7 linked regions of the Homo sapiens genome follow. The protein of the gene in region 5 purifies or fractionates together with the protein of the main gene of each other region. This does not show direct contact. Each region holds a gene or a part of one and is shown on either strand. Other genes may lie near its edges. The genes, in order: SCAP, ABCA3, TMEM219, CLCN7, MCOLN3, KCNJ8 and SLC12A9.

Region 1 (3,500 bases), on a different chromosome or scaffold from region 5:
ATTGTTACCTTCCCATCCAAGTGGACTGCCCTCTGCTCACAGGTGTGGAGCTGGGCACCAAGAAGGTCAATCGAATCATACAGTACAGCAGTTGAAGAGAACCAGAACTCAAGACTCAAGAGAGTATGGCCTAGCCAACAAAGGCTGGGGACATCTGGGGCTGAGGCAGGCCACGCTCACCTTTTGTCCAAGAACACCAGAGCGGTAATGCCTGAGGAGACCTCCTCGCTGCTGCAGCACAGCACCCCTTCAATGGCGTCCCACACCTACGAGTCCAGAGGCTGTGAGCACCTGCCAGCCAGAAAGGCCCACAATCCCCGGGGCGGACAGCCGCTCTGCCCACCTTTAGCCCCTCTGCCCACCTCCAGCCGGCCGCTGCTCCGCCCCACCACGATGAGGTTGCCCTGCAGCTCCAAGCTCCAGATGGAACCCTCGGCACTGGGGGCCCAGGCGAGGGAAGGGGAGCCTTTCTCGGGGGAGCCACCCTCGTCCTCAGGGGCCTGGGACAGCACCGGCCCAGGCGAGGGTGGGCGCAGGGCTGGTGTGCAGACGGCCGCCAGCCCCTCCTCCTGGTACACCCGCTGCACCAGGCAGCTGAAGTCATAGCCTGGGGAGTCCCGAGAGCGGCCACAGACCGCCCGGTGCCGGGGCTCGGGCTGAGTGGGCTGTGAGGACCGAGGCTGCGCTGAAAAGTTGGTGTCAATTAAGCAGGTGAGGTCAGGCTGGTCCCCGAAGAGGGAAGGCGGCGGAGGGCCCCGGGGGCGGTGTCTCAGGGGAGGGCTGTCCCCAGGCTCCTCTGGACCAGCCTTCCCACCATCTGAAAGTCGTTCCCAGCTCTCCTGAGCCTCAAGCCCGCTGCCCACGCCACTGTCCCGGCGCTGCCTGCTGGGGGCCAGGAGGGCGGAGTGAGAGGGGGCACGGGGGAGGGGGGTGAGAGGGGGCGGGGGACGGGGGTGAGAGGGGGCGTGGGAGTGAGAAGGGGCAAGGGAAAAGGGGGTGGGGGGAGAGGGTGGTGCGGGGTGGGGAGAGGGGGGTACGGGGTGGTGGGAGGGGGTGCGGGGGTGGGGGGAGAGGGGGCCTGGAGGGGTTGGGGGATACCTCGGAGGAAGAAAGGAGGGGAGATACGTGGCGGCGGGGGGTGGGGTGAGGGGGGTTGTGGGGGCACAAAGGAGGAAAGGGCAGCCGCACCTACCCTGGGCGCGGAATGCGCGTTAGGCAATCCCCGGTCTGCGCGTCCCACACGCAGACGTGGCCTGCCAGGCAGCAGCTCACCAGCAGCATGCCGTCGCTGGCCAGGCACTCGATGTCCTGCAGAAGCCCGGTGTTGGTATGGGCCAGGCTCCGGCCCTCCCCTACCCGGCCACTGTGCCCCTGCTCACCATGAGGTGGCCGCGCAGCACAAGCGGCACGATCTCCGTCTCGGGTGGCGCATAGCCGTAGTCGTCGCAGGGCAGCTCCCCGCGCCTCCGCCGCCCGGGCCCACCACCCAGCTGCCCGTAGTTGCGCGGGCATAGCACGCGGTAGAGGCAGAGCAGCAGCAGCACCAAGACGATGCCGGTGGCCAGGCCCAGCGCCGCCACCCTGCACGGGAGGGCGGACTGCTGTGAGACACACCTCACAGCCTGTCCCCTCCCCTCCTCCCTCTCCCCTACTCTTGCCTACCCGTCCCCCTCCCCGCACTCTTTCCCACCCCACCCCACCCAGCAGCCTTACTTGTACAGCGTGACGTCTCCATGGGCCTGCACCCCACCTGGGCCCTTGGGTCCTGCTTCCCAGTGCCCAGCAGGTATGGGCCCCGGTGGGGGCCAGGCACTGCGGCCGTCCTGAGGGTGCCGGCCCTCCAGAGCCTCCCTCGGGTTCAGGCGGAGCGTGACTGGGATGACGGGCAGCAGGCTGATGTACCTGGATTCGGACAGTGGGCAGCCTCAGCGGGGGGCCTCCCAGGGCTTCCTCCTGCTGTGCTCGCCAGCCAGTCCTCTCCCTCCTCCCCAGGCAGGCCTCAGCTCCACCGGCCAGACTCTCCCAGCATGGGGGGTTGGGGACAGAGGTAGGTCCCTCCCCAGCCCAGCTTAGCAGCCAACTTGCTGTCCCAGATACCAGCACCCAAACAGCCCTGGTGGCCGTGTGGGGTATCTCCCTCCCCACTCCTGGCACAGGTGGGTGGGTCTCATTCTGGTGAGGGCTGGCAGCCACCAGTGACTCCTCAGAGCAACCTGGGACTCCTCTCTTGGGTTATAGCTGCCTAAACCACCAGTTCCCACCTCACAACCTTATGAACTGTTTTAATTATTTGCATAATTCAAACCTGTGGGCCTCCTGCATTGGGGAAAGGGGATGGTGAGTTGACACCATCGAGTGAGGTGGCACCTGGCACGGCCCAGCTCACCTCTTGGCCAGTGTGATGTTGTAATAGCTGAAGAGCGTCGGCCAGTGGCGGAAGGACAATTTCCTCCAAAGTTCCTCATCCTCAGGCCCCCAGGTTACCTCTGGGACTGGGCTGTCATGGACAACCTCTGCTGGACCTCCACGCTCAGGTGACTCGCCTGGCGACGTCTGGTTCTCAGGTAGCTTAGGGGCATCAGGTGGGAAGATGGAGAAGGCAGGGTCCGGGTGGCTGGGGGGCAGCATGCCACTAGGCACGGGCATGGGAGCCAGGGCTCCCTCACCCAATGGGCTCTGTTCCGTCACCTGGGCAGCGAGGTAGTTGCGCAGCCCTGCTGGGTCTGTGTATACCAGGATGCCAATCCAGACAACGGTGCCAGCCTGCAGTGGGGCAGGGGGTACTCAGTGGGAGGAATGGGCCCCAACCCCCAGCAGCTTCAGCCCTCATGCTGAGAGGAAGCAGCACAGGGACCTCAGGCCTGGGGATGGAGAGAGGACACAGGCCCCACTGCGTCCTTTTCTCCTGCCTCTCCAAGTCCTCCTGCTAACACCTGCCAACACTTGCTGCTGGAGGGGCCTGCTTGCCTTTCCACAGTTAGGGGCTGAGTTTCTTGGCCTGGAAATACACTGAAGCACCCTGAGGTTTGACACAGAATGTCCCCACCCCTAAGCTCCACCTCAGCTGGAGCCAGAAAGCTGCTACCATTCCTACGGTCAGAGGGCCAGCAACCTGACCTGCTCCAGAGTCCCCCAGAGGTCCTAGTCCCAGGGGGCCTCAGCCTTCCTCCCATCTCAGTTCAGCTCCCTGGAAGAGGCACTGCTGCCCCAAGGCCAGCCCAGCCCGGCTGGTGAATGATTTTGCCCAGCACTTTCCAGTGTCTGCACACCATGCAGCGGCCGATGAACCCGACCCAGGGCAATGTGGTGGCCACAAGTGGGTCCATCCCAGAGCACTCAACTAACAGGCTCCTGTCCTGGGCCACTCTGGGGAGAGGATGGCTCCTGTACCTGAGAACCCTGGAGCTGCTTCTCCCACAGGCTTATCTCCTCAGAAGCCACTAGGGTCTGGGCAGGGAGGACACAACGGGCAACTCCCCAGAGCCAGGCTTCCAGGGGCC
Region 2 (4,244 bases), on a different chromosome or scaffold from region 5:
CATAGGGTGTATTTTTAAGCCAGAGACGTGGTTCCAAAGGGAGCTATCGGGACAGACTTCCACAAAATCTCTGCTACTGCCTGTTTCCCTAACCCTTGCCGTGGCTTCAGTCCCGTTCTCCAGCCAGCTAGCTGTTCTGCCTCCCTAGGTGCAGGAAACGAGGTAATGAGGCAATGGAAAGTCCCCAGAGGGAGGTAACCATGGATGTTCTCCAACAAGCAAGTTAGCAAGGACCTCGTTACACGGCTCCCGCAAAGGCACCTGTCTGCCTGTTGACTCCAAACCTCTCCAACACCACAAACACTCTGAGCCATTCAGGGGAATGGGGTCTGCAAAACTCTCCCAGGACAGGGCCTGACATGCCTCACTCTTCCCCACAAGATGTGGGCCTTCAGTGTTTTGTCTGCCTAGAATATCACCCGGATACCTTTCTCTACCTACCCATCACTTCCCAGCCCACTTCTAGTACCATGGCCTCTGTGAAGCTTGTTTCAGGGGCTCTTTGTCTTGGCTGCCTGCACAATGGAATTTTCCAGGGCACTTTAAGACAGAAACTGACATCTGAGGCCCACCCCTGGAGATTCTGGGCTGTTTTGGGCCCAGGCTGGCTTCCCAGGTGATTGTAACGGGAAGCCTGGGTGGAGACCCTCTGCTCTTCTTGGAGCCAACTCTCCTCCACCTCTGGTCACCTGTTGCACCTTTTCTGGATGTGTCATGTGGTACTCATCTTGTTCTGTCTTATGTCACAGTTACTTGTGAATAAAGCATCTCTTTAGCTCTATCCTAAGACCCCTCCAAGAGCAGGGACTGTGTCCAATTCATCTTTTTTTTTTTTTTTTTTTTTGAGACAGAGTCTTGCTCTGTCGCCCAGGCTGGAGGGCAGTGGTGCCATCTCAGCTCACTGTAACCTCCACCTAATATGTTCAAGCGATTCTTCTGCCTCAGCCTCCTGAGTAGCTGGGATTACAGGCACGTGCCACCATGCCCGGCTAATTTTTTATATTTTTGGTAAAGATGAGGTTTCGCCATGTTGGCCAGGCTGGTCTCGAACTCCTGAACTCAAGTGATCCGCCCGCCTCTGCCTCCCAAAGTGCTGGGATTACAGGTGTGAGCCACTTAGCCCGGCTTCCAATTCATCTTTCCATTGTGCACAAGGCCTTCCCCGTCAGAGCCGTCCCCAAAGTTCCAGAATGCTTCCCCTCAATAGATTCCACAGTCTCCGGAAGCAGGGCTGGGGAAGAAATGGCAAACTAGGGATCTTACCTGGGCCTTCCCAGTTGAGACTACGTCAAAATGGGCTCCCATGAGACTGCCTGGCTCATGCAGATGGAAGGCTAACATCTTTTTAGAAACAACTCGTGCTACCCTCTCCTGTTCCAAAAGCCTGTCTGGTCAGAATGGTGGTAAGTCACTTTAGGAAGGGAGAGACGTCGTCCTGTTTTTCAGGTAGAGTTAGCAAAGGTTCAATTTAAAAGAAAAATTATCTAAGAAGTTAAAAATGAAAGTGTGGGGGAGATTCCCATGACATCCATTTTTATCTATTTTTCCCTTTCTCTTACATTTCTCATGAGGCAAACTTTCTAAAACAGTCTTAGTCTTTTCAAGTTTACAAAAGGCAGCGCCCAGACTATCTGAATAAAATGACGGGATGCCCAGGAGAAGAGTGAACCTCTCCCACGTGCTCCCTGCCTGGGCTCCATGCTGTCGCGGGGTCTCGGCTACTCACTCAGCGGGCATTTCTGGAGTTCCAGGAACACAAACCCCAACAAGATCCAATCGACGCCTTCCCGGAGTGCACAGTCCAGGACGTAACCCGGAGAACAAGCGGCAATTACCCCCTGAGGACATGGCTTCATCTGTGCGACAGACACCAAGCGCCTTCCCCACGCCCCTGACCATAAGGCCGTCCCGGCCCTTCTGAAGCGTGGAGCCGGCTTGGAACAGAGCCAAGACACACGGACGCGATGCACACAGGCGTCCTGACCGAGGGCGCCGAGAACGCGGCCTCCGGCGACTGCCACAAGCCCCTCCGCCTGGACTAGCGGCTCCCCTTTCCCGTTCCCACACAGTGGAGGGCGCAGCAAACGCCCGCCGCGGACCGTGGGCCTTGGATTCGGATTTGGAGGCTCCTCGGAACCAGAGGGTGGGAGCAGGCGGAATCCAACCCGGGCGGCTTTGCCACCGCGCGCCCGGCATCCCTGCGGCCGGAAAGCGGCGCCATCTCCGCAAGTGCGCGGCGGACGCCTGCATCCCTCGGGGCCGGGGCTGTCGGTCGCTACATATCCACCTTCTGGGCGCACACAGAGGGCCCGGGCCGTGCCGAGTCTCCGCAGGGTCGAGCTTCCCCGCGCGGCGCGGGCTCAGGCACTGCCCGCAGTGCGGGACACGCCCAAGGCTCGGATGGGAGCCGACGCTGAGGGAGCGGCACCTGCAGGGAGCGCCCGGAGCCGAGGCCGCGGCAGGAGGGGCGGGCGCGGGCGCGGCCGGAGGGGATGCGGGGTCGCGGGAGGGGCCCGCAGGCCAGGCCGGAGCTGGGGGGGGCCCGAGGCCCGAGCTGGCCGGCGAGGGTGGGAAGGGCGGACCCGGGTGGGGACCGCAAGCCCCGGGAACGAGCGCGCGAGCGGCGGGTCCCGGCGGCACTCACCGAGCCTGGGCGCCGGGGCGGCGGCGGCCGGCGCGCGGCCCTCTCGCGGGGTCCCCTCCCTCGGCCACCCGGGCTCCGCTCCAGCCTCGCAGTGGCGGCGGCACTGACAGCTGCGTGGCCGCCCTGGAGGGGAGGGTGCGCCTGCAACCCGCTACTGGCGGACGCAGCGGCCGCTCCGGCTCCTGCAGGGGGCGCCGCGGATGGCGCGTGCGCAGTCGGCCGCCCCTGCAGGTGCCCGGTCCACCCCCGGCCGCCTCGGCCGCTCCGGCCAGCCCAACCCCGCGCCTGCGCGGTGCCCCCTGCATGTCGCCCATGCCCGGCAGAGGGCGCTCTGACTTGCGCGTGCGCAGTCAGCCACCCTGCGAGTACGCGGTTCGCACCCGGCCGCGCGGCAGCCCGTGCTTGCGCACTGCTCTGTGCCCGCGCCTATGTCCAGCAGGGGGCGCGCAGCGGCGGTAGCCGAGCGAGGGCGCGGTGGCCTCTGACAGGAATGACTCTGCGCACGTGCGTTTCGCAGCAGTGGAAGTCTTCACACCCGGAAACTCGACTTTGGCCGTTTCTCCATTTCTCCTCACGCACTGTCTTTCCTTGGGCCCTCGTCACTCCTGGCACCGGGGGAAGGGCTTCCCCGCCTCTGGCCGGGCGCTGGGGCGCGACCGAAGGCGAGGCGGCGGCGAGGAACCTTCTGGAATTCGGCCGTCGGGGCAGGCGTCGAGTTTACAGGAGAAGGCGCGGTGTCCCGGGATGAGCGGAGTCGCCCTCACTTAAGGAGCGAGGGAGGCCTCGGGGGTCCCCAGCCGGGTAGGAGTCACCTCAGGCAGGAGGGCCCGGCCTTGTCGGGGTCACCTGGCGGGAGGGTCCCGGGGTGGGGCGGGGCCGCCTGTGAGGAGGGTCCAGAGAGGGTCGGGGTCACCTGAGGGGAGGGTGGGGGGGTTCGGGGATGGTTGGGGTCACCCGACGGGATGGTCCGGGGAGGGTCGGGTTCACCTGAGGGGAGGGTCGGGGAGGGTCCGGAGAGGGTCGGGGTCACCTGAGGAGGTGGTCCGGAGAGGGTCGGGGTCACCTCACGGAGCGAGCGGAACGGGGTCACCTGGAGGGAGTGTCCAGGGCGGGGGCCCTGCAGGGAGTCGCCTGCAGGGAGGGTCCCGGGCGTGTCACATTAGGCGGTCCCAGGGACGGGTCGCGGTCTAACGGGACGGGAGTGGGGAGGTGGGTCGGGGTGTCCCTGGGCCGGACCGGGTCGTGGGACTGGGTCGCCCCAGGCAGGAGAGCCTGGGAGGGGCGGGCCCCCTTGGCGTGGCAGGGAGAGGTGGAGTGAGGGACTCCCGGGCTCCAGCATGAGGGCGGGCGCCGCGCGGGGCCGACAGTTGCCGCGGGCCGGGGCCAATGGGTCCCCGAGCGCCGCCAGCGGCCGGACCACAGTGAGGTGCGTCCGTGGTCCCGGCGCCCCGGGTGAGGGAGGGCTGCTGCCGGTCCTGCCGCTGGGAGCCGCCTGCGACCCGCACCGCCAGCCCCGCGCCCAGCCAGCCGCCGGCACCACGACCCGACGGCCCCGACCTAATGCAACGCCCCGGGCCGGGGGCGGAAATCGCCCACCCCC
Region 3 (3,500 bases), on a different chromosome or scaffold from region 5:
GAATGTTTTAAAGACAATAGTAAACAACAATAGCTGTCACTTATCAAATCTCTATGTCCCAGGCAATGTGCTGGGCACTTCACGGTCATTCTCATTTAATCCTTATTTGATGGAATTAAGAGATAGGGTCATGTTTTCTGTTTTACAGATGAGGATGCTGACACTCAGAGATGTTTAGACACTTGTTCTACGTCACACAGCCCCCAAGGCAGGGTTATAAAACCTGTGCTTTTTCTACAAGGTAGAATTGTTTCCAGGGACCTTCAAGATACAGTAGTCAGCAGGCAGTCTACAAAACCCTGGCGACCCATCTGAGGCTCTTACCGAGGTGAGCAGCTTGGTCAGCACAAGGCCTTCATGGCTCCAGACACTAACACATTCCTCACCCATTCTAGGGCTCAGGGTGGCATTTCCAGCCCCCTCCTCTGAGCAGGATATGGGTGGCTGGCTGGAGGGTAGGATTCCTGGAACAGCACTAAAATATAGGCAGGTTCCTGCAGTCCTTTCTGTGGTCACCCTGGCTGTGATAAGGACCAGTTGTCCTGCAGAAGATCCTGTGAAAGGCACAGAAGAGAAAATGGAAGAAAATGAGAGGTGACGCGGGAGCCTCTGTCTTCACGCTTCTTTTCTTGTATTTTCTTTTTTTTTTTTTGAGGCGGAGTCTCGCTCTATCACCCAGGCTGGAGTGCAGTGGCGCAATCTCGGCTCACTGCAAGCTCCGCCTCCCGGGTTCACACCATTCTCCTGCCTCAGTCTCCCGAGTAGCTGGGACTACAGGTGCCCACCACCAGGCCCAGCTAATTTTTTGTATTTTTAGTAGAGACGGGGTTTCACTGTGGTAGCCAGGATGGTCTTGATCTCCTGACCTCGTGATCCGCCCGCCTTGGCCTCCCAAAGTGCTGGGATTACAGGCGTGAGCCACCGTGCCCGGCCCTTTTCTTGTATTTTCTTTCTTTCTTTATTTTTTTGAGATGGGGTCTCACTTTGTCGTGCAGGTTGGAGTGCAGTGGCACGATCCCAGCTCACGGGAGCCTCAACCTCCTAGGCTCAAGTGATCCTCCCACCTCAGTCTCCTGAGTAGGCAGGGCTACAAGTGTGTGCCACCTACCTGGCTAATTTAAAAAAATTTTTTTGTAGAGACAGGGTATCACTGTATTGCCCGGGCTGGACTCAAACTCCTGGGCTCAAGCCATCCTGCTACCCTGACCTCCCAAAATGTTGGGATTCCAGGCATGAACCACCACGCCTGCCCCTAGTCATTTTTTAAGGCTTTCTATAATACCAGGTGTTTTGGCATTGATTCTATTCAATAAAGTATTCCATATACCATTATTTATATCACTGAGAAATGAAAATAACTTTGTATCAATATAAACACAAATTAAGTTGTAATTTAAATTAACTTAAATTACAATCAATACAACAACCATACTAATACTCGCAAGGCTGCAGTGAAATGGGCAGATACACATTGCCCATGTCAGTTTGCATAAACTAGTTCATTCTTTTTAAGAAAGCAGTTTCTCACTTGGTACCAAAATCCATTAAAAGGTTCTCACCCTATTTTAAATTAGTGGGGAAAGGATGGCCTCAGTAAATGGCCTTGGGAAAATTTCCATGTAGAAAAAAACATAGCGTCAAACTGTTATCTTATAAAATAAAGTTCAGATGTATTAAAGAACTATACAAACTAAAAAAAAACTTAAGTATTTAAAGAAAATACAGAATATTTTATTTTATTTTATTTTATTTTATTATTTTTGAGACAGAGTTTCACTCTTGTTGCCCAGGCTGGAGTGCAGTGGTGCAATCTCAGCTCACTGCAACCTCCACCTCCTAGGTTTAAGCAATTCTCCTGCCTCAGCCTTGTGAGTAGCTGGGATTACAGGTGCCCACGACCATGCCTGGCTAATTTTTTGTATTTTTAGTAGAGACGGGGTTTCATCATGTTGGCCAGGCCAGTCTTGAACTCCTGACCTCAGGTGATCCACCTGCCTCAGCCTTCCAAAGGCTGGGATTATAGGAATGAGCCACCACGCCTGGCCAGAATATTTTCTAATTTTAAAATGAGGAAGGGCTTCCTATGAAAGACACAAAACCTAAAAGTTTTAATAAAGGACAAGAGTGATAAACCTAACCTCATAAAAATTAAAGACTTCTATGCAATGAAAGATAAGTTAAAAAAACAAGTAACATATTGAAAATACCTATAATATATTTAAATGACAAAAGGTTTACTATCTAGAATAAAGACCTACAAATCAAGAAGAAAAAGACAAATAACTTAAAAGAAAAAGGAACAAAGGAAACAAACAGGTAATTCACAGGCAACATGAATACAGACAATAAACCATAAGAGGCTCAACCTTACTAGCAATCAAGAGAAAGTAAATAAAACAATTGGGTAATACGCCAGACCCGGTAGCTCATGCCTGTAATCCCAGCACTTTGGGAGGTGAGGCAGGAGGATCACTTGAGCCCAGTAGTTTGAAACTAGCCTGGGCAACATAGTGAGACCACATCTCTATAAAAAATACAAAAATTGGCCAGGCGCAGTGGCTCACACCTGTAATCCCAGCACTTTGGGAGGCCAAGGCGGGCGGATCATGAGGTCAGGAGTTCAAGACCAGCCTGGCCAACATGGTGAAACCCCATCTCTACTAAAAATACAAAAATTAGCTGGGCATGGTGCCACATGCCTGTAATCCCAGCTACTTGGGAGACTGAGGCAGGAGAATCTCCTGAAACTGGGAGGCAGAGGTTCAGTGAGCTGAGATCGCATCACTGCCCTCCAGTCTGGGTGACAGAGCAAGACTCCTTGGGCTGGGGGGCGGGAATTAGGTGAGCGTGATGGCGAGCACCTGTAATCCCAGCTACTCAGGAGGCTGAGGCAGGAGAATGTTTACTGCAAGCCCTGCCTCCCAGGGATAAGCAATCCTCCCACCTTAGCCTCCCAAGTAGCTGGGACCACAGGTGTGCACCACCACGCCTGGCTTTTTTTTTTTTTTTTTTTTGTATTTTTAGTAGAGACAGAGTCTTGCCATTTTGTCCAGGCTGGTCTCGAACACCTGCGCTCAAGCAATCTGCCTGCCTTGGCCTCCCAAAGTGCTGGGATTACAGGCATGAGCCACCACATCCGGCCCTAACTGTACACTTTCAATGGGTGAATTGTATGGTACATGAATCATATCTCAATAAAACTATTATATATCTATTTAAAAGTAAAAAGAATGGGAAAGAATTGTCCCAAGTCTGCATATATCGGACACATTCCTTATTTTTGTTAACATACATGTACATCTGGACATGCAGAGACCCACTCCCCCGACACATATATACTCACAGGAGAATCTTAGAATGATAGTGTTGTAAAGGACCTCAGAAGTCAGAAAATACCACCCTCTTCCATCCCTCTTTATCTTAGCATATTTTAGATAAGGCCAAATGTCACACAGGGATTATTGGCATCCACTGACATTTTCACATTCTCCCTATCGCTT
Region 4 (3,500 bases), on a different chromosome or scaffold from region 5:
CAAAGCTGGGCCGCCCACCGCATCCTACAGGCACACCTGCCTCCGCCAGCGTGGCCAGCACAGGGGAGGTGTTCCCGCTAGCCCCGCCTAGCAAGGCTCCTCATACACCCCTGGCACTGGAAGGCTGGTCACCTGCGGCTCCACGATGCCCCCTCTCCCTTCGGCTGCTCCCCGCCCCCAGGGGCCTCATCCTCTCCACCTGAGAAGGTGTGTAAGGTGTTTATCAGCCTCCCTGCCCCAGGGCAGAACCCACAAGGGCGCAGACCCTAAACACAAGGGCGCTGAGTGTGTGGGGGAGGACTGTATGTTAAAGATGCCGAGCAAACTCAACCCTCAGCCAACAAAAGTTATAGAGCAACATCCAAGAAGGTTCAGGCCAGCCTGGCGCGGGTGACAGGCGGGTCGCCATTCCCAGCTGCTCCAGTAAACCTGATCTCCCACCACAGGGCAGGGGCACCCCAAGGTCACCTGGGAGCTTTCGCCAGAGGGGACACACTGGTCCCGCTCCTTGGCCACGGGGACCAGGCCCCGGAAGCACCCCCAGGGGGCAGCGGCCATGCTGCCCACCCATCCTCAGACGGGACGGGGCTGCGGCAAGTCTCAGGCTAAGGAACGATGGCGGCACAGACAGAAGCAACCACAGCGGAACTGGGTCAGGACTCCCAGCACCTCCAGAACCAGATGCTCTGATAACACCAAGTGTAAATGACCATGAGGCAAACTGAAAGCGGGAAACTGCTACACGCCCACTACCACGACAGCTTCCACGGTGAATCAGTCACCACCACGCAGCCCACAGTCACAGACGCGTCGCACAGCTGTGTCACACATGCACCACGCAAGCATTTCTGTATGACTACTCATTTCTTACGTAATTTAATATGTGCAAATACCAGTTGTTACCACTTTCAGAAAAAAAGGTGACCCCTTCACACCCAGCCAGCCCATCTGCACACAGTGCCACCAGTACACAGGGTGGCTGAGGCCAGTTCTGGAAGGCAGGCAGCCAAGAGAGCTGCTCCTGAACCAGCAAAGAGCGGGCGCCCACCCTGCCCAGCCAGGGCCACCGCACCCTCACCTTGAGCCGCACCACGTGGGGGATCTTCACCCCGTTGAGGAAGCACTTGATCTGGGGGATTCCGCTGCCAGCAGCCACCGGCTGAAAGAGGGGAAGCACGGCTGAGTGGGTCACGGCCAGGCTGAGACAGATGCAGCCCCTCAGCCCCAGGAGCCCCAGGAGCTGAGGAGAGCAGCAGACACGTCGGGGCCTCAGGGAAGGGGAGCTCAGCACACAAACGTCGGGGCCCCAGGGAAGGGAAGAGCAGCACACACGTCAGGGCCCCAGGGAAGGGGAGAGCAGCGCACACGTCGGGGCCCCAGGGAAGGGGAGCTCAGCACACACGTCGGGGCATCAGGGAAGGGGAGAGCAGCACACGCGTCGGGGCCTCAGGGAAGGGGAGAGCAGCACACATGTCGGGGCCTCAGGGAAGGGGAGCTCAGCACACACTTCGGGGCCCCAGGGAAGGGGAGAGCAGCACACATGTCGGGGCCTCAGGGAAGGGGAGCTCAGCACACACTTCGGGGCCCCAGGGAAGGGGAGCTCAGCACACACTTCGGGGCCCCAGGGAAGGGGAGAGCGGCACACACGTCGGGGCCTCAGGGAAGGGGAGCTCAGCACACATGTCGGGGCCTCAGGGAAGGGGAGCTCAGCACACACTTCGGGGCCCCAGGGAAGGGGAGCTCAGCACACACTTCGGGGCCCCAGGGAAGGGGAGAGCGGCACACACGTCGGGGCCTCAGGGAAGGGGAGCTCAGCACACACGTCGGGGCCCCAGGGAAGGGGAGCTCAGCACACATGTCGGGGCCTCAGGGAAGGGGAGAGCAGCACACACGTCGGGGCCTCAGGGAAGGGGAGAGCAGCACACACTTCGGGGCCCCAGGGAAGGGGAGCTCAGCACACACGTCGGGGCCTCAGGGAAGGGAAGAGCAGCACACACGTTGGGGCCCCAGGGAAGGGTCTCATGTCGTTGGGGTAGCTGCTCTCACTCTTCCCAGCCCAGACACAGATCAAGGACGTGGTGGAGGCGGAGGTGGAGATGGAAGGAGGGGAGGGCAGAGTGAGGAGATGGAAGGAGGGGCGGAGTGGGGTGAGGGTGCCCAGGCCTGTGCTGGTAGGTCAGGAGCAGCACCCCAGGGCTCTGGGGGTGAAGAGGCCCTGGTGTGTCTGCTCCTCCTGAGGTTGTGAGTCTGGACCACGTGATTCTAAAAGTGCCCGGGTTGTCAGCCAATGTGATGGTGGGGGTGGGTGAGCTGCAGGGGTTCCCGCCCATTCACCAAGACCCCCAATCCTTCATGGGGTCCGCCATAGCTGCGGCATCCTGCCACCCACCTCTATGAAAGCCACAATCACAGAGCCCACGAGCACGAAGGCGGCGTTCAGCGTGGCCCACAGCAACAGGGAGAAGGACAGTCCGCCCTTCTCTGTGAACTTGTCGATATCTGGGGCTCATCAAGGAGGGCTGGCTGCTTCCCCGTCATGACCACCCAGCCCAGACCTCAGCCCTGCCCCACAGACCAGCCTGGCAGATGCCACCCTGCTGGGTGGAGCCATGATGTTCACTGGACATCCCAGAGACGTCTCACGGCCCAACCATGACAGGGACACAGCCAGCCTGGCCGGGCCGCCTCCACCTGCACTGGAACACGCTGGGCTCAGGACTTCTGCCCGGGACTCGGCCCAGGCCACGCCCCCCTCCCAAGCTGCAGCGGCCGCACTGGGAAGGATACTGCCCTTGATGACCCTGTACTTGAGGCCAGCCAGGTTTTCCACCACGATGTCAATGAAGCAGGCCACGAGGCCCGTGAGGATCCCAATGAGGGCGCAGATGACCCAGCGCTTGATCTCCACCGTCCGGAAGGCCTGCAGGGCGCGGTCAGGGCGAGGGTCAGGCAGGGCCCTGGCGCAGTCACTCTGGCAGCAGCAGGACCGCCCAGACCGCCTGCAGGCCCCGGGATTATGAAGGGCCCAGTGTGCACGGTGCGCTGAGTCCCACAAAGGACAGTTTCTGGCCAACATCTGAGGCGCACCCGGGGCCCGAGGGTGACTCGGGGAGGTGGGTGAATTCCCAACAACTTCACAGCCAGCGGTTGTTATGCTGGGCACCGCATCTGGCGGCCGTAAGAGCAGCCTTCTTGGTTACGGTGACCGTGACCCTCCCACTGTCTCTAGAAACCAGACGAACCACAGGCCTCAGAGGCGGAGTCAGAGGAGGAGGGAGGAGGTGCGTCACCTCACCCCGGCAGAAGAGCAGCCCCAGGCCCGGCCGGCACCAGGCCCCGCACCGTGGGGCCCTGCAGGGAGCGGCGTCCAGCTCACCGTGTGATTGATCCGCCGCTCCTCCTCCAGGAACAGCTGGTTCTCACTGTTGTCATAGTCCAAGCTCTGCAGGCCGGGACAGCAAGGGCAGCACTCAGCACCGAACCCACGCTCTGGGTGCGGG
Region 5 (4,217 bases):
ACCTGGGGGAAGGACTTCAGAGGGTAGGTGGGCCTTGAAGTTATATGAAAACTTTCATATATGTGGCTGTGGACACTTTTTCCTGGGAGGTAACTAAAACTTTCACAGATTATCAAAAAATGTTTAAAACCACCGAGTTAAAGATAGCAGGGTGTAGTGTAAAGAACAAGATTCAGTTTGGTTTCTAATCCTGGTTCCATGACTTGACGTTTCTGCAATCTCAGGGAAATCACTTAGCCCTTCTGAGCCTCAGTTTCCTCTCCAGCAAAATGGGAATAACTACACCTACCCTTCTATGATTGTAGCCAGAATTAAATAGTTATGAGTGTAGAGAGCATTAAATAAAACAGTAAACAAAGCCTTTGCATAGGGTCTAGCGCTAAGCAGACTCACCTACCTAACACCCACAGCAGACAGGGTGGCTTCCTAGAAAGCCAGTAAGGTTCTTAAGGGGCAGTATGAGCCTCAGGAAACATAACTGTTGTACAAAGGGGAAAATGGGCCCTCAATTTAAGCCTAATTCCCAGTCTGTGGCATCGCTTGTAATGACTTTTTATTGAAGGCCTTATATTTATAGCATATTTTCAAAGTACTTCATATCTATTTGGGGGGGGGGGCAGGTACGTTTGAAAAGGGTTGGGTCGGGCTGGTTTTATTGTCTTCAGAATCAGTTTTTTCAAAGTGACGGAGAAGTCACTCTAGAGACTGGGATGGATCTTGGATTTTCCCTCAGACTAAGATTGATATTATACTATGGAAACCTGTTCAAAGTAAAATACCCCAAACAATGAGTAGCGTCCTTCCATACGGAATAGAAAGGCAGGCTTTATTTGACATTTTAATAATAACTTGTACTCAGCAATGAAGAAGGAAAATTGTAACCTGCATTCATACAATATCTTACAAGTCACTGGTTAGATACCATGCTGCTTTCCAAGTCTAGAACCCCACTTTTGATTCCAATTCAAGCATTCTTAGGAAGCCCAACATCTCCGAACAATAGATACTGGCTATAAAGAATAGCATGGGGAAGGTTCTTAAACTCTTGTTAATGAAAAGATTAATAAGGATACTGCTGGATGAATAAACCATAAAACATATTTACTGTATGGCAAATGCAGTACCTTCAAAATGAAATAATTATTATATAACTCATTAAAGTGTGGCTCCTGTGTGCGTGTTAAAATGCCTGTCAAAGCATAAATGCAGTAATTCTTAGGTAAAGGCATAAAGGAAAGAAAAAGTTATTAATAAATTAGGATTTTCACTTAACAGTTTTACTTCCTTCAAAAAGGCAGGATATTTTAACCAGCATTTAAGGAGACTTTATCTATAGGACTTAAAACGCAGATGATTTCATGTTGACCAAAGCTCGCATATGAACACCAACATAATGATGAAGCTGTTAATAAGCATGTTGGTGAGTTGTATATTGACACTAAGCGCTTTCCACTTTGATACAGGGAAAATTAAATTTTAAACAAACTAGCCACACACCATGTACAGTAATCCACAGGAACAAAGAGAAAACAAGCCAACCAGCATATATTCAGCACATCACAACGAGTTGTCCCGGTAGACATTTCATTCACCAGGACCAGATGCTGACCTTGGAAAAGTCAGGTTTACCCAGTCTGAAAAGCCCTTCCGAGGGTGCACTTTTAAAAACTGCAAACTGTCGGGAACCCCAGCAGCTGAAGGAGGTATTCGCAGCCAGCCACCCTTGACATTCACCCGGAGCGCCGGCGCGGGAGGCAGGGTGGGCGAAGGACCCCATCAGGAGAGGCTACCCGACGAAGGGGCCATCCGGAGAGGCTACCGAAGTATCTATCAGGCATGCTCTTAGAAGGAGCAAACGGACACACACAGGTTACCTGTTCCTGGCGGGCAGAGGCTTGATTGGAGTAAGCTGTAGAAAATTGGAGAAAGCCCGGGAGTGTATAAATAGCAAAGGCCTCCCAGTTGGCGACAAAGTTATGCAACCTCGTTTTTTCAGAAGCGCTTTCCCACTTCACCAGACACAAAACTTTAGTCTCTCCAGTCTTCTTTTTTTTTCAAACAAACAAACAACAAGGGTTGACACTTTTGTTGGGTAGTGTGTGCGAGAAAGATCTGCAGGGTTGCAGCGATGTCCCAGAGCGGTCGCTGCCATCCCCGGGCACTGCCGTGGAGCTCAGACGGCCGCAGCCCGGCTGGCGGCTGCTTTCAGCCAGCGCAGCGACCCGGGCCTGAGCCCCCACTTCCAGCCGCCCCCACCTCTAACAGGGGGACAGTCCGCCTTGAAAGGGGCCAGCCGAGCCGCGTCAAGGCCATCTGGAGCCCCGGCCGGCATCCAAGCCTTCCAGCCCAGGGGCTCCGGGCGGGGGTGGCTTCCAGCCCTCTGAGCCCTGGCCACAGGTGGGCGGCGGCCTGGAGGGGGACCGAGGAGCAGAGCACCCCCACCCGCCCAGCCCCGGGCAGGCCCGGCAGGCGCGCTCCTCCACTGACCTGCGGGCGGCTTGGGGGCGGCGCGGAACAGCTGCATCTCGCGCCCAGCTCCAGCCCGCCTGCCCTCCATGGCGCCGACTGCCCGGCCCGGCCTTCCCGCGGCGTCCCCGACAGCTCGCTGCCTCCCGGCCTCCCCGGCCCTCCCTGTGCGCCGCGGGCGCCGTTCCCGCGACACCCGACGCCCCGGGGCAGCGCCCCGCGGGCTCACCTGGGGGACAGCGGGGAGCGGCCGCAGCTCCGGTGTCCGCGGCGAGGGCGCAGGGCGAGTCAGCGAGCGACTCCAGCAGCCTCGAGCCCCGCTCCGCCCAGAGTCAGACGGGAGGAGAGCGCCCCGTCCGCCGCCCGCGCATCCTCCCGCCCCCGCCGCTTTAACTCGTGACCCTACTCCCGGCTCGGGTTCCCGCCGCGCCCTGTCGGGGGCCGCTTTTCAGGAGCACAGGTGGGACGCAGGAGGCCGTCCGGAGGAAGCCGGCGTTGTGCCCGTTCCCTGCCACCCCCACCCTATCACTCCCTTCATTTTCTCCCTGAGCAACCCGCACCGCCCTGCTCGGGTTTGCCAGGTTTGCTCCGGAGCTGCCGCCGGCGCCGGGGGGCCACCCCCTCCTGGCCAAGGCCCCTCAGGTGGTTGCCGGGCTCCGCGGGTGCGGGATCTATAGCGCCTAGCTCCGGTGAGTGTGAGGCCCCGCTGCAGCCTCCCATTCTGATTTTTGCATACAAGGTGAAATCTTGAATGTCTTAGCGTTTCAAGCCTGAACCTTGTTCCCTCCCTGGGTCTTCTAGTTTCAGACAAGTGCTGTGAAATGAGTGGACAGTCGACTAGACTCTTCTGTAGATTGGCGGCTGGGGCAGAAAGAGCCCTGGGAAACTTTTCCAAGAAATGTAAATAGAAATACCTGAAGTAGACTTTGAACCGTAATCTTTTTCTTCATAAATTATCTGTAAATATTAAACCTAATACCCCTTATCAGGATTGGATCAGGAACTTTGGTTAATTTTAATTATAATTACTTTGGATGTGTTCTGATTTTTAATTTTTACTTATTTTTTTTTTTTGGCCACGGGTAAATTTGTAAAGGTCACTGAATTTCCCTACTAGGGTATTCCTGAAATTAGATCGATACCTAGCAAACCTTTTATAAAACCTGTTTTCAAATCCTAAACCAGTATGCATGGATTACTAATAAATTTTTGCAACAGGGTACAAGAATTTTATGCTGTTCCTCAACCTGGATCCCACATACTGTGAACAAGGTAGATACCCAGAAAGGATATAATTGGCACAGTCAATTCTCAAGTGCAATTTGGAAAATATAATGTAATCTTTAATCCCCATATGCCTACACACGATGTAACGCTATCTCCTTACTTGATGGTAAGAGTTTGAAATGCTTGATTGTTCAGGAACAATCTGAACTTTGAAGAGGTTCACAGTCATAAATGATGGCACTTGCTTAACCCTCGTTTTAGCTGAGTTATAAGGACCGGTGAATAGATAAAGCCAGGTTTTGGAGTCAGACAGATGAGGGCCCAAATTCCCTTCTGTGCCACTTATTGGTCTCTAGGGAGTTACTTACCTTCTCTGAACCCCTTTTCTTTTTTATGTGCAATCTGTGAAGTTAGCCGAGAGAAAGGACGAGAGAGAGAGAGAGAGAGGGAGAGAGAGACCGAGAGAGACCGAGACCCAAGTTCAGGCAAGCCTTTATTCAACCTGCCGGCTGCTCCATTACAGA
Region 6 (3,500 bases), on a different chromosome or scaffold from region 5:
AAAAAAAAAGCTTATAGGATTTTTATGGTATGTCAGGCTTAGATTGAAAAACCAAGAGGACATTTTAAAACCTGAAATAAAATCAAAACAAAGCAAAAAAAAGCTAGTTTTGGAGCAAACAGACTTGAGAGAGAGGAATCTCAGAGTGAGTGTTATCACTTTGACATCTCTTTTACATGGCTCTAAAAACATCTTGAGTTTTAACTTGGGATGATTTTGTGAAAGAGGAATCACAAAACTACAGTGAGTACAAAGAAAATGTTTTAATAAAATATTCAATACAGTATTTCCCTGTGGGGATTCTAGAAGAAGAAGTGAGATGCTGAAGGAAGTGACTGTCACTGTGGGGAACCCAGTCCTAAATGAGACAAGACTTAGCTTTCCTTCAAAGACACCTTGTCCAGCTCTGCCCAACAGGCCGCAATGAGATGGACCAGGAAACCTTCAGGAGTCACCGACAGACAAAGCGAATGAACTGAATCCACTTACAAACAGATCCACTTAAGCAGTTTTTGCCTCAGGCTTCCTACCAAATGCAGTTATCATGGAGACAGGAGAAGGCTGATGTACAAAACGCATTAACATGATTTTGTTTTTTCCCCTCCTATTCTATTTGCATTTCCAGAGTGATCATTAGTAACACAGCGATCTGGGTTTCACCAACTAAGCATTTCAAACAGACTCATTTCTTGACCAAATTTTGTGCTCAAGGCCTGTTACTATTAGTGTAATTCTTGTGTTTCAAATTGAGAGAAACGAGCATACCCACCCCTGCACATAACTTAAGTATATCACTGCGAATTCTACATGTATGAAACAAGCATAAGCCATGAATCCTCCACTTGGTGTGTTACTTTTTATTACTACAGAAAGTGCTGTTGCTTGAATATGAATATCATTTAGTGTAATAAAATGTAGAAGGACACATTATTGTGTTCCAGCTCTGGTTCAGTCTGGCAGTGCCCAGCATAAACCGTCAAAACTTGATAAAAGACTGTCTTGGGGTTATCTTGCTGTCATGATTCCGATGTGTTTTGATTTCCTTCTGGAGTCATAAATTGCACCTTTGGTACCATGAGGGAAGAATTGTTCCTTCGGATAGAATTGTTCCTCCTCATGGAATTGTTTCTTCTCATGGAGTTGCGCTTCCTCAGAGAATTTTGATGAGACAGTTCACTCTTTTGGAGGGTCTGAATAAGGATGGAAGGTTTCTCATCCAGCTCTCGGGCACTGCACCGTGGAGCAGCTACTTTAACAGTGTTGCCAAATTTGGAGTAATCCACAGAATACACTCCTTCTTCCTCAGTCACAATGGACACAAAGCGGTGGCCCCATTGGATCTCCTCAGCAATGTAGGAGGTTCGTGCTTGTGTGGTGATGCCAGTAGTTTCAACCACTCCTTCCAGAATAACTATGACCTCCAAGTCTTGGTTGGCCAGGTCAGTTGCTGAGATGTCATACAGGGGACTGCGCTTGTCAATCACGTGGCAGATGATCAAAGGGGCCACCAGAAAAATGTTATTGCTCTCGATTGGGTTATCAACAGGAATGTCCAGTTGGTGAATAGGAACCACCTCCCCTTCAGGTGTAGTTGTTTTCTTGACCACCTGGATGCGCACAGAGGCACTAATGATCATGCTTTTCCTCAGGTCACCCACTCGGAACATGAAGCACAGCTTGCCATTTCGGACGGCAATCACAGCATGGCGGCTGAAAATCAAAGTTTCTGCCCTTCTGTGAGCCTGAGCTGTTTTCATGAAAATGCAGCCTAACATGACTGCATTGATGATCAAACCCACAATATTCTGGAGAATCAAAACCGTGATGGCCAAAGGGCATTCCTCTGTCATCATCCTCCCTCCAAACCCAATGGTAACTTGAACTTCAATGGAGAAGAGAAAAGCAGAAGTGAAAGACCTGTGAGGAATGATATCAGAAAAGAACACCATCAGGTCACATTTTGAATAATGAAATATGCCAAGCTGAGCTTTTCATTTTCTTCCACCAAAGACTATTAAATGCTTGCAGAAAGACTAGCCAACTTAAACTTGTAAAATGCCTAATTCTAAACTGTGTTTAGAACAGTCTCTCTCTCTCTTGCATGCATCTACCTCCAGACTTCTGGAGATTAACATTCTATTAATTAAGTTCCCTTAAGCTAAGGCCTAATTCTATTAACATTCTATTAATGTTTCATAGGTCACATAGTGATGGGCCTAATTTGTGTAAAAGATTAATATATTTTCATATATATGCATATTTTACCTTGCGAAATACTTCACTTTCACAAAGGCACAGTTTACTTTGTAAAACTTTCTACCAGGTAGATGTTTATTATTTATTGCGTATCTATGTTTAGGAGACTTGAGTCATATGGAAGGTACTGAGTACTGAGTGAATTTATTATTTATAATCTTTAAAATCATATTCATTAGCTAATACTTATTTTGTGTCTCATATAGAAATAGCACAGTGCTAAAAAAACTAGTATAAAACACATTATTCCAAACAACTAGTATTTTTAATAGAAGGGAGTTGTTTTCCATTTGGAAAGAAAAGTGTCTTATTGATGATCTAATTTTGTTAAGTCAGGGGTCCCCAACCCCCCCCCCCCCCACCTCCAGGCCAGGGACCAGTGCTGGTCCATGGCTTGTCAGGAACTAGGCCACACAGCAGGAGGTGAGTAGTGGGTAAGCCAGCATTACCGCCAGAGCTCTGCCTCCAGTCAGGTTAGTGGAGGCACTGGATTCTCATGGTATAGTGAACCTTATTGTGAATTGCACATGTGGGAGATATAGGTTATCCCTCCTTATGAGAATCTAATGCCTCATGATCTGAGGTGGGACAGTTTTATCCCCACACCATCCCCATCCCCCACCCCCATCAGTGGAAAAATTGGCGTTCCGCAAAACCAGTCCCTGGCTCCAAAAAGGTTGGGGAGCACTACTCTAGGTGTTCTGGAGAATACTGAAATGATTAAAGGGAGAACTAGGGGCAGAAACTAGTAAATGACTGTGTCAAGGTCACATACAGATATGCCTTATTTTATTCTTCTCTGCTGTAATGTATTTTGCAGATACTGCATTTTTATAAATTGAAGGTCTGTGGCAACCTTCATCCAGCCAGTCTATTATCACAATTTTTTCAAAACGTGCTCACTTTGTGTCTGTGTGTCACATTTTGGTAATTCTCACAAAATTTCAAACTTTTTCATTATTATTACATCAGTTACCATGATGTGTGATTAGTGATATTTGATGTCATTATTGTAATTGTTTAGGGCAGCAGTCCCCAGCCTTTTTGGCAACAGGGACTGGTTTTGTAGAAGACAATACTGGGGGGTGTGTGTGGGGGGAAATGGTTTCGAGATGAAACTGTTCCACCTCAGATCATCAGGAATTAGATTCTTACAAGGAGCCCGCAGCCTAGATCCCTCACCTTCGCAGTTCACCGTAGGGTTCACACTCCTATGAGAATCTAATGCCCCCACTGATGTGACA
Region 7 (3,500 bases), on a different chromosome or scaffold from region 5:
CCAGGTGCACCAATCTTGTTCGACACTCCACCCCCATCCCTCCCCAGACACCTGTCACAAGTGAAGCTGGAGAGAAAGAAAAGCAGGACATAGACGAAGAAGGTGTAGGCGACGGCGACGATCGTGCCCAGAGGGATCGCCCGGCTGGGGTCCTTCAGCTCCCCTGGAGAGGGGGAGCAGAGGGAGTGAGGTCAGCCCTCCAGCCATCCCCCTGGGTCCCTCACGGTGGCAGCCCCAAACCCCCAGGAGGCAGCAGGCAGGGACTCTCACCTGACATGTTGGCCCCAGCCATGATGCCTGTACAGCCGTTAAAGAGGACAGCAAAGACGCTGGCAAAATTCATCACGGCTCCCGTGGTGTAGTCCTCAGCATAGCCAGCTAGGAGGATCCTCCCAGGGAGGAGAGTGCATCAGCATCCGTCTCAGGGATCCAGGCCTCTTAGCCACCCTCTCCACACATTCCCACGGTCCTCTTGCCTCCCCTGCACTGCCCTCACTAAGACCCCAGCCTGTTCCTGCACTGGCCCTGGGTCAGCCAGACACATTGCCACGTCCCCCCAGTGCTCCGATATTCCTCCCTCCAGACCCTAATCCACGCTCTTTTATTTATTTATTTATTTTTTAGAGACAGGGTCTGGCTCTGTCATCCAGGCTGGAGTGCAGTGGCACCATCGTAGCTCACTGCAACCTCTACCTCCTGGGCTAGAGCGATCCTCCTGCCTCAGTCTGCCAAGTAGCTGGGACTACAGGTGTGCACCACCATGCCCATCTAACTTTTTAATTTTATTTATTTATTTATTTTGAGATGGAGTCTCGCTGTGTCACCCAGGCGAGAGTGCAGTGGTGCGATCTCGGCTCACTGCAACTTCTGCCTCCCAGGTTCAAGCAATTCCCCTGTCTCAGCCTCTCAGGTAGCTGGGATTACAGGTGCCCGCCACCACGCCTGGCTAATTTTTGTATTTTTAGTAGAGATGGGGTTTCACCATGTTGGCCAGGCTGATCTCGAACTCCTGGACTCAGGTGATCCACCCGCCTCGACCTCCGAAAGTCCTGGGATTACAGGCGGGAGCCACCGCACCCAGCCTATTTATTTTTTTGAGACGGAGTCTCGTTCTGAAGCCCAGGCTGGAGGGCAGTGGTGGCGATCTTAGCTCACTGCAGCCTCTGCCTCCCGGGTTCAAGAGATTCTCATGCCTCAGCCTCCTGAGTAGCTGGGACTACAGGTGCGCACCACCACCCCTGGCTAATTTTTGTATTTTTATTTTATGGTGTTTTTTTTGTTTGTTTGTTTTTTGGAGAGGGAACCTCACTGTCTCCCAGGCTGGAGTGCAATGGTGCAATCTCGGCTCACTGAATGGCACAATCTCGGCTCCTCCTCCCGGGTTCAATCAGTTCTCCCTCAGCTTCCCGAGTGTCTGGCACTACAGGTGCAAGCCAGCGTGCCCAGCTAATTTTCGTGTTTTTAGTAGAGACGGGGAGAGGGTTTCACCATGTTGGCCAGACTGGTCTCAAACTCCTGACCTCAGGTGATCCTCCTGCCTCGGCCTCCCAGAATGCTGGGATTACAGGCGTGAGCCACCGCACCTGGTCTCAAGCTCTTTCCTGAGATGCCTTCCCTCTCTGCTCCCAGCTCCTGGCTGAATCCCCCACCTGTCTATCTCAGGCCACCTCCAGCTCCCCGGCTCCTGCCCTCCCCAGCCCATAGTCAGGCCTCCCTTCTCTCCACTCCTGGGTGATCCTGATCTGTTTAAGTCATGCTGGGCCATTCTGTGCTATTTAACTGATTCCTGAATGCATGTCTCTCCTCAGCTAGAACACAAGTTCCTCTAAAGCAGGGACTGTTTTGTGGGCTTCCTCCTGCCCTGCCGGCCAAGCACACGCTAGACAGGCTTGAATTAAATTGCACTGCTCTGCAGTCCAGACCTCCTGCCCTCCATTCCCTCTGACACCTGTGCTCATCCAGAGGTTTTACGGGCCCGGCCCGACGTCTGCCCACCCCTCACCCCGAGATCCCTGCCACGGCAGCACCCAGCTCACCGCCCAAGTTGTCCTTCAGGGTACTGCTGTTGAAGCCGGTGAAGTGGCCAAACCGGGGCGGCAGGGAGGAGCCATTGGGGCCAGGCCTAGGAGTCAAGCGGATGTCCCTCGGCCCCACAGCCACAAAACTGATGAGCACAGAGGCCAGGGAGCCAGAGACCAGCAGGAATGTGAGGAATGAGGCCCGGGCATAGAGGCCGGCTCCCAGGGTGCAGACCCCACCCACAAGGCCCAGCAGCAGGGAGCCATACAGCAGGTTCCAGCCGTAGCCCTGGGGCAGGACCCGGAGCCCACTGGGCCCTGTGGCATCTGGAGAGAGGTAGGGACAGAGTTAGAAGGCCCGATCCTAAGGCACCCCACCAGCCGGGCATGGTGGGCGGCTCACATCTATAATTCCAGCACTTTGGGAGGCCGAGGTGGGAGGATTGCTTGAGTCCAGGAGTTTAAAACTAACCTGGGCAACATTGTGAAACCCCAGCTCCACAAAAACTGCAAAATTAGCCAGGTGTGGGGAGGCATGCCTGTAGTCCAGCTACTGGGAGGCTGAGGTGGGAGAATCGCATGAGCCCGGGAGGCAGAAGTTGCATTGAGCCGAGATGGTACCACTGCACTCCAGCCTTGGTGACAGAGTGAGACCTTCTCTCAAGAAAAAAAAAAAAAAGAAGAAGGGGCAGGGCGCCGGGGCTCACGCCTGTAATCCCAACACTTTGGGAAGCTGAGGCAGGTGGATCACTTGAGGTCAGGAGTTCAAGACCAGCCTGGCCAACATGGTGAAACCCCGTCTCTACTAAAAATACAAACATTAGCCAGGCGTGGTGGTGAGTGCCTGTAATCCCAGCTACTCAAGAGGCTAAGGCAGGAGAATTGCTTGAACCCGGGAGGCAAAGGTTGCAGTGAGCGGAGATCACACCACTGTACTCCAGCCTGGGCAACAAAGCAAGACTCCATCTCAAAATAAATAAATAAATAAGAAGGGACCCAGCCCCAACTGTGACCCAAAGCAAGACAAGCCCTCCTCTGCCCACCTGCTATCAGAGAGTCCACCTTCCCCACTTCCCTCTTAGCTCCATCCTAGCATCTTAGCTCTCCCTGGTGGTCTCTGTCAGTTTTAAGAATCTTAGCCTGGTCTCTCCGATTAGATGGTTAGCTCCCTGCAGGCAAGGACAATCTCAGGGATGTCCATATCTCCTGCACGATGCTGGCCACACAGCAGAAGCTCCAGAAAGCCAAGGTAATGGCTCAGTCTGCCCCTCTGCTGGAGAGGACCTTCTCCCTCATGATCCCACACTCCCAGACCCTGTAAACCCGCAGCACTGCCCAGATCGGACAGAGCACAGACCGGCCCCGAAGACATCAAGCACAGACTCCACCAGCCCCAGGAGGGAGACGGCACAGCCACAGACGTTAGCCAGGTAGAACATGAGCCCAATGCTGCCCCCGACCTCGGGCCCCAGTGTGCGGCTG

The links.
Region 1: the proteins of MCOLN3 (region 5) and SCAP purify together in Homo sapiens (affinity purification with mass spectrometry; 3 studies listed by BioGRID and IntAct, with this or other methods). This does not show direct contact.
Region 2: the proteins of MCOLN3 (region 5) and ABCA3 purify together in Homo sapiens (affinity purification with mass spectrometry; 3 studies listed by BioGRID and IntAct, with this or other methods). This does not show direct contact.
Region 3: the proteins of MCOLN3 (region 5) and TMEM219 purify together in Homo sapiens (affinity purification with mass spectrometry; 3 studies listed by BioGRID and IntAct, with this or other methods). This does not show direct contact.
Region 4: the proteins of MCOLN3 (region 5) and CLCN7 purify together in Homo sapiens (affinity purification with mass spectrometry; 3 studies listed by BioGRID and IntAct, with this or other methods). This does not show direct contact.
Region 6: the proteins of MCOLN3 (region 5) and KCNJ8 purify together in Homo sapiens (affinity purification with mass spectrometry; 3 studies listed by BioGRID and IntAct, with this or other methods). This does not show direct contact.
Region 7: the proteins of MCOLN3 (region 5) and SLC12A9 purify together in Homo sapiens (affinity purification with mass spectrometry; 3 studies listed by BioGRID and IntAct, with this or other methods). This does not show direct contact.

The regions. Positions count from the first base shown.
Region 1 is NC_000003.12:47,416,942-47,420,441, forward strand, and holds part of SCAP (sterol regulatory element-binding protein cleavage-activating protein), read right to left. Parts: intron 2,764-3,500; coding exon 2,387-2,763; intron 1,903-2,386; coding exon 1,714-1,902; intron 1,582-1,713; coding exon 1,380-1,581; intron 1,309-1,379; coding exon 1,193-1,308; intron 886-1,192; coding exon 363-885; intron 267-362; coding exon 181-266; intron 1-180. UniProt on the Homo sapiens protein: Escort protein required for cholesterol as well as lipid homeostasis.
Region 2 is NC_000016.10:2,337,929-2,342,172, forward strand, and holds the start of ABCA3 (phospholipid-transporting ATPase ABCA3), read right to left. Parts: upstream 2,801-4,244; 5' UTR 2,645-2,800; intron 1-2,644. UniProt on the Homo sapiens protein: Catalyzes the ATP-dependent transport of phospholipids such as phosphatidylcholine and phosphoglycerol from the cytoplasm into the lumen side of lamellar bodies, in turn participates in the lamellar bodies biogenesis and homeostasis of pulmonary surfactant.
Region 3 is NC_000016.10:29,965,079-29,968,578, reverse strand, and holds part of TMEM219 (insulin-like growth factor-binding protein 3 receptor isoform 1 precursor), read right to left. Parts: intron 555-3,500; coding exon 325-554; intron 1-324. UniProt on the Homo sapiens protein: Cell death receptor specific for IGFBP3, may mediate caspase-8-dependent apoptosis upon ligand binding.
Region 4 is NC_000016.10:1,458,029-1,461,528, forward strand, and holds part of CLCN7 (H(+)/Cl(-) exchange transporter 7), read right to left. Parts: intron 3,443-3,500; coding exon 3,377-3,442; intron 2,921-3,376; coding exon 2,788-2,920; intron 2,500-2,787; coding exon 2,390-2,499; intron 1,160-2,389; coding exon 1,079-1,159; intron 1-1,078. UniProt on the Homo sapiens protein: Slowly voltage-gated channel mediating the exchange of chloride ions against protons. Functions as antiporter and contributes to the acidification of the lysosome lumen and may be involved in maintaining lysosomal pH.
Region 5 is NC_000001.11:85,045,701-85,049,917, forward strand, and holds the start of MCOLN3 (mucolipin-3), read right to left. Parts: upstream 2,801-4,217; 5' UTR 2,696-2,800; intron 2,566-2,695; exon of another isoform or gene 2,558-2,565; coding exon of another isoform or gene 2,488-2,557; intron 1,910-2,487; exon of another isoform or gene 1,875-1,909; intron 1-1,874. UniProt on the Homo sapiens protein: Nonselective cation channel probably playing a role in the regulation of membrane trafficking events. Acts as a Ca(2+)-permeable cation channel with inwardly rectifying activity.
Region 6 is NC_000012.12:21,764,707-21,768,206, forward strand, and holds the end of KCNJ8 (ATP-sensitive inward rectifier potassium channel 8), read right to left. Parts: intron 1,918-3,500; coding exon 1,017-1,917; 3' UTR 249-1,016; downstream 1-248. UniProt on the Homo sapiens protein: Inward rectifier potassium channels are characterized by a greater tendency to allow potassium to flow into the cell rather than out of it.
Region 7 is NC_000007.14:100,855,713-100,859,212, reverse strand, and holds part of SLC12A9 (solute carrier family 12 member 9), read right to left. Parts: coding exon 3,376-3,500; intron 2,346-3,375; coding exon 2,037-2,345; intron 379-2,036; coding exon 271-378; intron 164-270; coding exon 52-163; intron 1-51. UniProt on the Homo sapiens protein: May be an inhibitor of SLC12A1. Seems to correspond to a subunit of a multimeric transport system and thus, additional subunits may be required for its function. May play a role in lysosomal ion flux and osmoregulation.